3 linked regions of the Homo sapiens genome follow. The protein of the gene in region 2 interacts with the protein of the main gene of each other region in a biochemical or structural test. Each region holds a gene or a part of one and is shown on either strand. Other genes may lie near its edges. The genes, in order: CETN1, CCP110 and NEURL4.

The links.
Region 1: the proteins of CCP110 (region 2) and CETN1 form a complex in vitro, tested with the Homo sapiens proteins (one study listed by BioGRID).
Region 3: the proteins of CCP110 (region 2) and NEURL4 form a complex in vitro, tested with the Homo sapiens proteins (one study listed by IntAct).

What each region holds. Positions count from the first base shown.
Region 1 is NC_000018.10:578,777-582,527, forward strand, and holds CETN1 (centrin-1), read left to right. Parts: upstream 1-1,603; 5' UTR 1,604-1,632; coding exon 1,633-2,151; 3' UTR 2,152-3,338; downstream 3,339-3,751. UniProt on the Homo sapiens protein: Plays a fundamental role in microtubule-organizing center structure and function. Plays a role in sperm cilia formation.
Region 2 is NC_000016.10:19,530,395-19,534,045, forward strand, and holds part of CCP110 (centriolar coiled-coil protein of 110 kDa), read left to right. Parts: intron 1-2,021; coding exon 2,022-2,150; intron 2,151-3,651.
Region 3 is NC_000017.11:7,322,791-7,326,441, forward strand, and holds part of NEURL4 (neuralized-like protein 4), read right to left. Parts: coding exon 3,647-3,651; intron 3,554-3,646; coding exon 3,465-3,553; intron 2,924-3,464; coding exon 2,851-2,923; intron 2,684-2,850; coding exon 2,419-2,683; intron 2,191-2,418; coding exon 2,009-2,190; intron 1,691-2,008; coding exon 1,605-1,690; intron 1,481-1,604; coding exon 1,318-1,480; intron 1,223-1,317; coding exon 1,024-1,222; intron 934-1,023; coding exon 857-933; intron 774-856; coding exon 695-773; intron 334-694; coding exon 158-333; intron 77-157; coding exon 1-76. UniProt on the Homo sapiens protein: Promotes CCP110 ubiquitination and proteasome-dependent degradation. By counteracting accumulation of CP110, maintains normal centriolar homeostasis and preventing formation of ectopic microtubular organizing centers.

The sequences.
Region 1 (3,751 bases), on a different chromosome or scaffold from region 2:
CAGGGTTTCACCTTGTTGGCCAGGCTGGTCTTGAACTCCTGACCTCAGGTGATCCTCCCGCCTTGGCCTCCCAAATTACTGGGATTACAGGTGTGACCCACTGCACCCAGCCATAAAACTCTTTAACACAAACTCTTCAAAGTGACATCTTTTGTAACCTTCATAGGTTACAAAAGGTATTGATATATTAATAGATTGAGATTTGATTGCGGGGGGGCGGGGCAGGGGGAGAATGCTAAAAAAATAAGTCAGCTTTCTTTTCTGTAACTATTTAAAAGAATGCAAAGTAATTCTACAGGCAATTCCTTGGTGGGCTTATTTGGTAATTTTTTTTTTCTTTTCCATTTTCCTCTTGCTCTTTGGTTTGTAGGAGAACCGCTTTATTCCCAGGAGGCAATTTTGAGTCCCAACATGTCCTGCATCATCTCCTGTGCCCATTGCCAAAGGAAGGCGACCAGAGCGTGGGTTTCAGCACAGCTCTGATTGGATGATAAGCAAGGAGAGTAATGTGCTGCTAGGAGGTTAGAGAAAAGAAAATACTAGAATATACCAGAATGTAGTATTTCCACTTCCCTCCCTCCAAATCAAAAGCCTCATGAATGAAATTATGACCATTATTCAAGTGCAATTATACTGAGTATGTAAAATGGAAACACTGAAAGTAAATCATACATTTGGATATTACATTTCATATTTGAGAACATGCCAGAAACATTGTATTATTGTTGAGTGTAATGTCAGGAGACAAACTTCTACGCATTTTATACATAAATTTTTCCATTTTCTCTGTTTCCCATTTATGTCAAGTTGAACACATGGTATGACTTTTAATATTCTCTCTTCCTTCTCCTTCCCCACATTGAATGTCAAGTGATCACACTCAATCTTGATTATCCTAAATTTACCCTTAGGACCTGTCACCTCATTGGGTGTTGCCGCTAGAACAAGAGGGTTTTTTAAATGGTATAAAAAGGAGAGGCCCGGCTTGGTAGCTCATGCCTGTAATTCTAGCACTTTGGGAGGCTGGGGCGGGAAATCCCTTGATCCCAGGAGTTTCAGACCAGCCTGGGCAACATGGTGAGACTCTGTCTCTATAAAAAAAAAAATTTTTTTTTTTAATTTAGCTGGGTGTGGTGGCATGCCCTGTAGTCTCAGCTACTATGGAGGCTGAGGTGGGAGGATCACTTGATCCTGGAAGGTGGAGGCTGCAGTAAGCTGAGTGGCACCAGTGCACTCCTGTCAAAAGAGAGAGAGGAGAGAGAGAGAGAGAGAGAGGAAGAGTCCCTAAAGAAACCTATAAAACTGGGGTCTTATGGATGCTAGCACATATCTTGGAAAGAACTGCCAGCGCCAGTGGATTACAGAAGACAACTGTGGCTACAGGCTGTTCTTGCCAGCTCAGGCGTCAACTCGTGGAAACCGGTTAATGACCCGAGGGGACAGCGGATTCTCGCCTAAGCAAGATCCCGCAGATGGGAGGGCGTAGGAAGAGGTTCCCCGGGCCGGCTCCAGGCCCCAGCGGGCGTGGGCGTTGGCAGTGAGCGAGGGGTGGTCCCGCGCCGCGCCGGCGGGGGGCGCCCGAATGAGAGCGCGGGGCGGTGCCGTTGGGACCACGGCGGCCAGAGCGGCAGGATGGCTTCCGGCTTCAAGAAGCCCAGCGCTGCCTCCACCGGCCAAAAGAGAAAGGTGGCACCTAAGCCCGAGCTCACTGAGGATCAGAAGCAAGAAGTTCGGGAAGCATTTGACCTCTTCGACGTGGACGGAAGTGGGACCATCGACGCGAAGGAGCTGAAGGTGGCCATGAGAGCGCTGGGCTTCGAACCCAGGAAGGAAGAGATGAAGAAAATGATCTCCGAGGTGGACAGGGAAGGCACGGGGAAGATCAGCTTCAATGACTTCCTGGCCGTGATGACGCAGAAGATGTCCGAGAAGGACACCAAAGAAGAAATCCTGAAGGCCTTCAGGCTCTTTGATGACGATGAGACCGGGAAGATCTCGTTCAAAAACCTGAAGCGTGTGGCCAACGAGCTGGGGGAGAACCTCACGGATGAGGAGCTGCAGGAGATGATCGACGAAGCTGATCGGGATGGGGACGGCGAAGTGAACGAGGAGGAGTTCCTTCGGATCATGAAGAAGACCAGCCTTTACTGAAGTCGGTTCAGAAGCTAAAGTGACTCTCTGGGTTGCCTGCTTCCATTTTGTGAAACCTTAGAGGACAGCGGCTGCCTGTCCCTTCTTCACCCCCTCACCCCCATAATTTGTCTAGATCTATTTCCATATCTCTAGTTCAATAATAGAATTTGAAAGATGCTTGTAATGTGAGTTTTGGGTTTTAATTCTCAAGAGTCAACCTGGAGCACATGAGGTTAAACAAAGGGCCCTGAAGTTTGAGTGCGCCCTCCATTTGCCCTGTGCTGAACTTGCTGTTCATCTGTTGATCTGGAGGCAGGACAGCTTCTGGGACACACAAAAATGTGGTTCCCTTTGTCACTTCTTTGGTGGTCTTAAATTATCTTGCTTCATATATCATTCCTTAAATTCCAGTCATTGTTCCAGCATAATGAGATGGAATCTGCCAGTAGATTTGCCTAGCCTGTCCACTTAGCTGAATACCAGTTTGAAGGAAAACAGGGTGGCCACTTACAAACTTACGGAGCTCAGGACAGATAATCTTATAAAGAATAGACTTGCTTGGGTGGTAGTACGTTGTGCAATTTTGACTATTCACTGGCTTTATACCTGCAAATGATTCTTCGTTCATGTGTAAATTGTCCACCATGGGTTTATCTAGGGCTAGTATGTATACCTGGGCTACAGAATAAAAATAAAATCTAATACTGGCCCAAGCAAAGTATAATTTGCTTAAGAGGTTACGCTAACAAACGATTTTGAGTAAATATTTACAAATGTAGGATCTTAGTTTAGGAAATTATAACAAATACCTTAATATAACATTTTAAGCTACTTATAGTCCTTGGAAATAGCAACAAATATCTTAGTTATTGGACTATTATAACCTTAGTCATCTTATTACTGCTTGATTATGAGACACTCTCCCTGCTAATCCTTAGAACATCTTGGTTCTTGGTACTTGACTTTTAGCCCCTCTGACATATAGTTGATGTCAGAGTGTCTGGCATTTCAGTAGTGCTCTATTTTACAAATCCCAGTAAACTGCTCCACTGTGGCTTGTTTATGTGTTAATACTGCTTGTTTTCTGTTATAAATTATTTTTTGCTTTGGAGTAAGATATCATCATTTTGCATAGCTACAAATCTGAAGTTAAAGAAAATTTTAAAAATGTAATTGTGGGAAAATAACAAATAGATCTGCTGAGATGGAGGCTTTGACTAATGTTTTAATAACAGGCAACAAAACAAAGAGGCAGGATATTTTGGTCACAACTAAACCTAAATTAAATCCTCATACAAAGCCCCATTAAGATAAATGCTCAAATTCTGGGAACATTTCACTTGCTTTGCCAGCAATTTTACCCTTCAGAGGGTGTGGATCTAATCAGGGGAACAAACTACCCTGGGCTTAATTCTCATTAACAGGGACTAATTTGTCAAAGCGGCAGTACTAGCTGAAGTGATGGGTATGGAAGCATTCACTGTGAGGATTTTGCTGAGGTGCCTGGCACAGGGTAGGGGAACTCACCCAGGCTGCAAGATGCTAACAGTTCAGGTTCAAGGTCTTAGTGTGGACTAAGGTGCAGTCAGGATGGGAACAGGTGCAACTTGGGCCAACA
Region 2 (3,651 bases):
GGGCTGGGCGGGGTGGCTCATGCCTGTAATCCCAGCACTTTGGGAGGCTGAGACCAGCCTGGCCAACATGACGAAACCCCGTCTCTACTAAAAATACAAAAATTAGCTGGGCGTGGTGGTGGATGCCTGTAATCCCAGCTATGTGGGAGGCTGAGGCAGGAGGATCCCTTGAACCCAGGAGGCGAAGGTTGCAGTGAGCCAAGATCCACTGAACCCAGTAGGCAAAGGTAGTGAGCCGAGATCGAGCCACTGCACAACAGCCTGGGCAACAGAGTGAGACCCTCTCTCAAAAAAAAAAAATGTAATCCCAGCACTTTGGGAGCCCGAGATGGGTGTATCACTTGAGGTCAGGAGTTCGAGACCAGCCTGGCCAACATGGCGAAACCCCTTGTCTACTAAAAATATAAAAATTAGCTAGGCATGATGGTGGGTGCCTGTAATCCCAGCTGTGCGTTAGGCCGAGGCAGGAGAATCGCTTGAACCCAGGAGGGATCGGGATCGCACCACTGTACTCCAACCTGAGACTCCATCTCAAAAAAAAAAGGAATTCTTTGGAGATGATGCCCTGCACTTCATACTAAATTAAATCAGAAGTTACATAATGTTTAGTTGCCCTCTATTAGTGATGTTTAGTTTGAACACTTGCTTACAGTAGTGACTGCCAGATGGCTCTTTAAAGTACACATTTTCTCCTTTTGATTAGCAAGTAAATTGTATAATCATTCTTTGGTACCATGCAATTAGGAAAAAGTTTTAAAACAACATATTTATCAGCTATTTGATAACACATTGCTTGATTTAATGTGGACCAAAATGTCTGAGGCTTGTTGTGTAGGGTCTATGACTCCGTCTGTTATTTATTTATAAGCAAAATGTGATGTTTATGGACCTAATCCACACTTTTATGTTGTATTTGATAGGTGAATATTGCAACTTTTGAAATAATTTTTTAATGATATATTTTCTATTTGTGTAAGTCTACGATAAGTCTTGACTGTTAACAGTGATTTAATTTCCCAGGACTTAATAATTAAGATTGAAATCCATTATAAAGAGATACAATGCTTAGAAGCCTTCCATTTTTTAGGTACATTATATTTTTATCAGAAGGTAGAGTGAGGTGAAAGAAAAGATGTATTCTGCTTTTGTAGGCAAATAATATATTATCTGTTTATTTTATCATTAAACCTTTGGACATTTTTTGAGGCAGCAAAGAGTTAAATTGTGCACTGGTTAGAAAATTAAAAGTTGTAGAATCCAGTTGATCCAGTGAAATAAGATACTGAAGATGGGCCAGGCGCGGTGGCTCGCGCCTGTAATCCCAGCACTTTGGGAGGCCGAGGTGGGCAGATCACAAAGTCAGGAGTTCGAGACCAGCCTGACCAACATGGTGAAACCCCATCTCTACTAAAAATACAAAAATTAGCTGGGCGTGGTGGCACGCGCCTGTAAGCCCATCTACTCCGGAGGCTGAGGCAGGAGAATCGCTTGAACCCAGGAGGCGGAGGTTGCAGTGAGCCGAGATCGCACCACTGCACTCCAGCCTAGGTGACAGAGCAAGACTCCATCTCAAAAAAAAAAAAAAAAGGATACTGAATGTGAAGTAATATTCAAGTCAATATTCAAGTGAAGTAATAAAAAACTCAGCAGTGGCCAAAAGGGCCTTAATTTTATTTCTGTCATTTTAGAACATTTGATTAGTGAACAAACTTTTTTCTTTTTAACCTTTTAACTGAAAATAATTTACACATAGCAAAATGCACAAATCTTAAGTGTTAAAGTTCCATGAGTTTTGATATATGGCATACACATGTATAACTCACACCCACACAGGATTTTCTTCACCATGGAAAGATCTCTAATGCCCCATCCCACTCAGTACCCAGACCATTGTTCTGATTTCTTTCACTATACATTAGTTTTGCCTGTTGCACATGTTTTTAATCTTTCTGATTCACAACTTCCCGATTTTATGATATTTTTATCGTGGGAAATAATTACATTTTTATGATGTTTTGCAGCTTAACATTGAGAAAAGAAAGGAAATGCAACAAGAAAAGCAGAAAGCACTTGATGTAGAAGCAAGAAAGCAGGTTAACAGGAAGAAAGCTTTACTGACTCGTGTCCAGGAGATTCTTGACAATGTTCAGGTGTGTGATTTTAGCTGTTTCAGTTATAATAAAGAAATCATAAGATAAGCGTTGATGATAATTTTTCTGAAATATATTTGCACTTAACTAATTACTAATGTACTTTACTGTTACGTTTGAGAAGCTTCATAATTTGTGATTTTCCATTTCAGTTACTCCAAAGAGAATGTACTTGCTTGTTAGTAATGCCCAGTACTTGAATCAGAGGATATTTACACAATAGAACCATACACTGAATATAATTGCTTATTGTTTGCATCTTATGACTCTAAAAACATTGAATTCTCAGTGACAAAATGACAGAATTGGGTATTATTGTTTACCCCAAACTAATTAGACTATTGACTAAATGACCTTATTCTCATTCTTTGCTTAAGTAAATAACTGCCTCCAATTTTTTTTTGGTGAAAACTCTTAGATACACAAAATGCAGTTTAGATAACATTGAATTGTTTAGATGCATCCTATGTCTAAAAACTATTTAAACAACACATCTACACCTTGTGCAGTTATTTTTAGATTTGTATAAACAATTTGTTCTGACATGTGGATCATTTTGTACTAAAAAGAAAAACAAATGAATTAGATTGAACGAATAATTTCTACAACATATAGCAGTGTTCTGCTGGTAACATCTTTTTGTTTTTTCATAATCTTAGGAGTTTGTGGTTTGTCTGTTTAATTCGTATCGATGACACGTGTATAATGAACCTTAAGGGTTCATTTCTCTGTTGGTAGTGTAAACTGAAGAAAATGACTGAGGCAAGTCTCAATCGATTTAGAGGTTTGTTTTGCCAAGGTTGAGGATGTGCCAAGGAAAAAGAGACAAAAGTTACAGTAGAATCTGTGGCTTATGCTTTTCCAGAAGAGGTTTTGAGGACTTCAGTGTATAAAGGGGAGAGAACAGCAGGAGGGGAAAGAGGAAAGAAAAAAAAAGGAGGGTAGGTAATGAGATAAGCGATCACATTTTTGTGAGGCTTTGATTAGCACTCACTGAATCCACAAGTCGCATGAGAAAGGTGGGGGTAGAGGAACAGTCAGTTATGCATTCATCTCAAGCTCAATAAATCTGCATTTTACATAGGATAAAGTAAGCAGAGTAGAGGAAGAAGTCAAATATACATTTGTCTCCAAAGGGATGATTTCTAGTCATCTTTGGTCTTTGTCCGTATCTTGTCAGAGTGAAATTCAGCAGAACTCTGGGTTGGTGTAAAGATTTTGGGGCCTACGAGGAATTTCCTTGTGAGCAATTTGCAAGAGAGTCTACCTGGGTAGATAGGTGGCCTTCTATTTTGCAGCTATCTGTTTAGGAATAAAAGGAAGGCAGTTTTTGTGTGACTCAGTTCCTAAGCTTTACTTTTTCCTTTGACATGTGATTTTCCATTTCAGTTACTCGAAATCCCTATGTAATGAGTCTTCAGAATCTGATGAAAAAGTCAAAGGAATATATAGAAAGAGAACAATCTAGACGCAGGCTGAGAGGTAGTATTAAGAGAATTGT
Region 3 (3,651 bases), on a different chromosome or scaffold from region 2:
TTGTCCATGGGGCCGGTGGCATTGGTGATGGACACTTGGACACACTGGCCATAGAGATCGACTACCGCATACACCTCTGGGGAGGAGAGGGAAGGTCAGAAGCCTGACAGCCAGGTGGTCTGGGCTGAGGGTGGCAGGCTGAAAGCCACATAGTCACCTTTACCCGGAGGCAGGCCCGAGCAGGCAGCGCCTTGGTCCTGGCCGTTGATGAAGTAGTGCAGGTCGCCCTTGGCAGTTCGCATCATGCCAATGCGTGCACCTGTGCCCAGCGCATCCAGGTCACACCCATAATTGTTGCGCATCGTGTTACCGTCTTGCATGATGGCTGTACCACTGGGGGGATGGCAGAAGGGGTGAGTCAGCCTGCCAACTTCAACTTCACATTGGCCCCTGCCCACTCCCTGTCTGTCAGAACCCTCCAATGTCTTGGGCTGGTGTCTTGATCTGGGTGTAAGGCCCAATCCTATCTCCTCTGTCCCTGGGATCCCCTTAGGAAAAAGCAAGAACTGCCTAAGATGAAGGAGGACTGAGCCCCTGTGGGCCTGGGCAGGACTTCCCAGAATTCAAGGGGAGGGGACAGGTAGATCCCCTAGGTCTGTCACTACCCACAGCCACCATAGGCCCAAACCTTGCTTCCCTGATCCCAGCCAGCTCCACTCAGCCCCAAGCTGGTCCCCAAAGCAGGAAGCCCAACCTCAGCATCCATGTGTCATAGTCAATGTCTGTCATGGTGTTGGGGAATTCCAGGTCTTCAGGCCGAATAGCAGTCACTCCTGGGAGGAGGCAGGGGTAAGTCAAGGCCGATCCCCAAGGCACAGACATCCAACAGCCCCCAACACACACAGACGGCCCTCACCAGCCTCAATGGAGCCTGACCAGCGGTCCACCATCTTCTGAATGACAATTTCAAACAGCTCTCCATCCCGCAGGGCCCTGCCAGGAGACTGGCGATCAGAGAGGCTCTACTTGCATGGCTGAGGCTGGGCAGGAGGAAGGTGGGGACATGAAAGTTGAGAGACTGACCGGTTGGAGATGACGATGGCGTCATTAAACTCGCTGCGACAGTTGTGGCGGAGGGCGGTGCGGCCCCCGTTAGTGATGACTGCGTTACTGCCGTGCAGCTGATGGAAGCGCAGGTCAGAGCCCCCGGCCCCTGAGGACGGAGAGCTTGGAGACACCTGGTTGTTCCCCTCAGGGAGTGGTTCAGGAACTGGAGCCACCTCTGTAAAAGTGGACATCACCCATCAGGTCTCTAGGTGTCTCTCAGACCTCCCAAGGCCACCCTAACCCCCAGCCCCAGCCCAGCCCGGCCCTCACCCACGTCGTCCACAATGGTGGCCTGGGCCGCCTGGCCATAGAGATCGACGACAGCATAGACGCCCGGGGGCACGTTCCAGGCAGCAGGGCCCTGAGTCATCCCATTGACAAAGAAGTGGAGAGTCCCGTCCTCCCGCCGTACCACGCCCACCGTGTCCCCTGCCTTGGAAGAAGGGGGTGCTGGAGTGAGGAGTCAGGCAGAGTTCCTGCCGGGGCTGGTCCTGCATCAGCCCCGCGGTGTTTGTGATGCCCGCTGCGGCCGCCAGGCGGCGCACCCACTTTCCCACCTTGAGGCGGTCCAGATTGTGCCCGTATTCATCCAGGATGGTCGTCCCATTGTGCATCACCCCATTCCCAGTCATCATCCAGGTCCCTGGGAGGACAAGGAGCAGGAGGGGACATGAGGGGAAATGCAGGGCTCCTCTCCTTGCCACAGCAGCGCCCACAGGACTCCCGAGCCCACAGTCCACCTTGCCTTTTCTTTGATGACTAGATTTCTTCCCTGAGCAGGACAAGAAAACTCTGCAGCTTCCAAGACAGCCACAGCCCTGCCCACGGGACACTCTCTAGCCACTGAATGAGTGGTCACAAGAGTGACAAGTGAAAAAGGAGCTGCAGAACAAGTGCCAGGGCTTTGGGGATAGCTTCCCCCCAAAACCCTATCCTGTCCCTGCCCTTCCTGGGAGCTCACCAGAGCGCAAGTTGGTCATGGTGGAGGGCAACTGGAGGTAGGCAGGGTTGTGGGTGGTGACACCAATTTCAATGGAGCCAGCCCATTTGTCCACCATCTTGTCGATGCGCACCTGGAACACCTCTCCATCCCGCAGGGCTCTGCTGCTCAGCACCACGCCGTGATTGAAGTCATCGGTGGCACTGAGGGCACAGCAAGTGGAGAGTCAGATCCCCAACACACGCTCTCAATGTGCCAAGGCTTAGCCCAGCAATGCCTGCCAACACTCACTGCCCCAAGCCAAAGAACTAAAGCTCAACCTCCAGGAAGCTGCCCCCGCCAGGCTCCCTCTGCCTTCCACTTCCTTGCCCCGCCCCCCCCCCCCCATTAGAATCCCTTCTTCAGGCTTCTCCCCACCCCATGGGCCATACTGGGGCCTCAGGGCAGTGCGTCCCTCGTGGGTGATGGCTGCCTTCTGCCCACAGTTGGGGTGGAAGAGCAGGCGCTCAGGTTCTGCCTGGGCGGCAGGGGCAGCACGGCGGAGAGCACCCTCGGGGGACAGCGCCCGCAGGATGGCGTTGTTTCGGCGGAGACGGTCACTGTGGTTGTTATTGTGGACGATGGTCACCTTCACTGCCATCCCGTACAAGTCCACCACACCATACACCACTGGGGGCGTCAAGGGGGTTGCCACTCCTGTGGCAGGAAGGTACGGGGGTGTGGGAGTGGACAGGGAGAATGAGGGGAGAAAGTCAAACACAGGGAGGCCAAGCACCAAAGAGAAGCAGGAGGATGAGGTACAGCCCCCAGTCCCAGCCCCACCGAAAGCCCCGGCCCAGAGGCTCTCTCTGGGCGGCCCTTACCCTGATCGATACCATTAATGAAGAAGTGTAGGGCAGAGTTGGACTTCCTTGTGAGGCCAATGTGGTCACCCTCCTAATCAAAGAAGACAAACAGTTTAGAGGAGTCCTGAGGCCTGCTCAGCACCCCACTCCACACAGGAACAACTCCAGAAGGTATTCGTGAGAGTCTCAGACCACCCTGGAGGACAGGTCCTGGGTCCTTGTTTTCCAGACATGACAATTTCCACATTTCGTCAATGCTCCACGTGAGTCAGGCACTGAGTTAAACCACCTCACAGACATTAGCTTCTACAAGTCTCAGCCTATGGAATAAGTACTACTCGTAGGCTCATTTTAGAGATTGCAGGAGGTGGGGGAGCAATCAAAGAGGATAAGCTTCTTGCCCCGGTTCGCTACTACAAATGGGAAAACAGTAAGAGGAATTCAACCATCTGACTCCAAAATCTGAGTGCTGAACTCTTGGGCAACTCAGGCTTCTAGGAAGGAACCTTTAGGTGGAAGATACAGGGACTGCCTCTAGGTCACATAGGAGACCCTGCTTGGTGCCCTGGCAGGGACACAGAGTACCTGTGGCTCTGCTGAAAGCGGCCCAGGGATCTGTGCCCCACCCTCACCTGCAACTCATCCAGACTGAATTCGCAGTACTCCCGGCGGGTGCCCTTGCCATTGGTCAGGATTCCACAGCCGCTCATCATGATGGTGCCTGGGTGATAGTGGACACTTGGGTTCGGGTACGGGGCTTCCTTCCCCTCAGCAACACCAGGCCTGCACCCCCGCCCCTGCCCGGGGCTGGTACCTGAC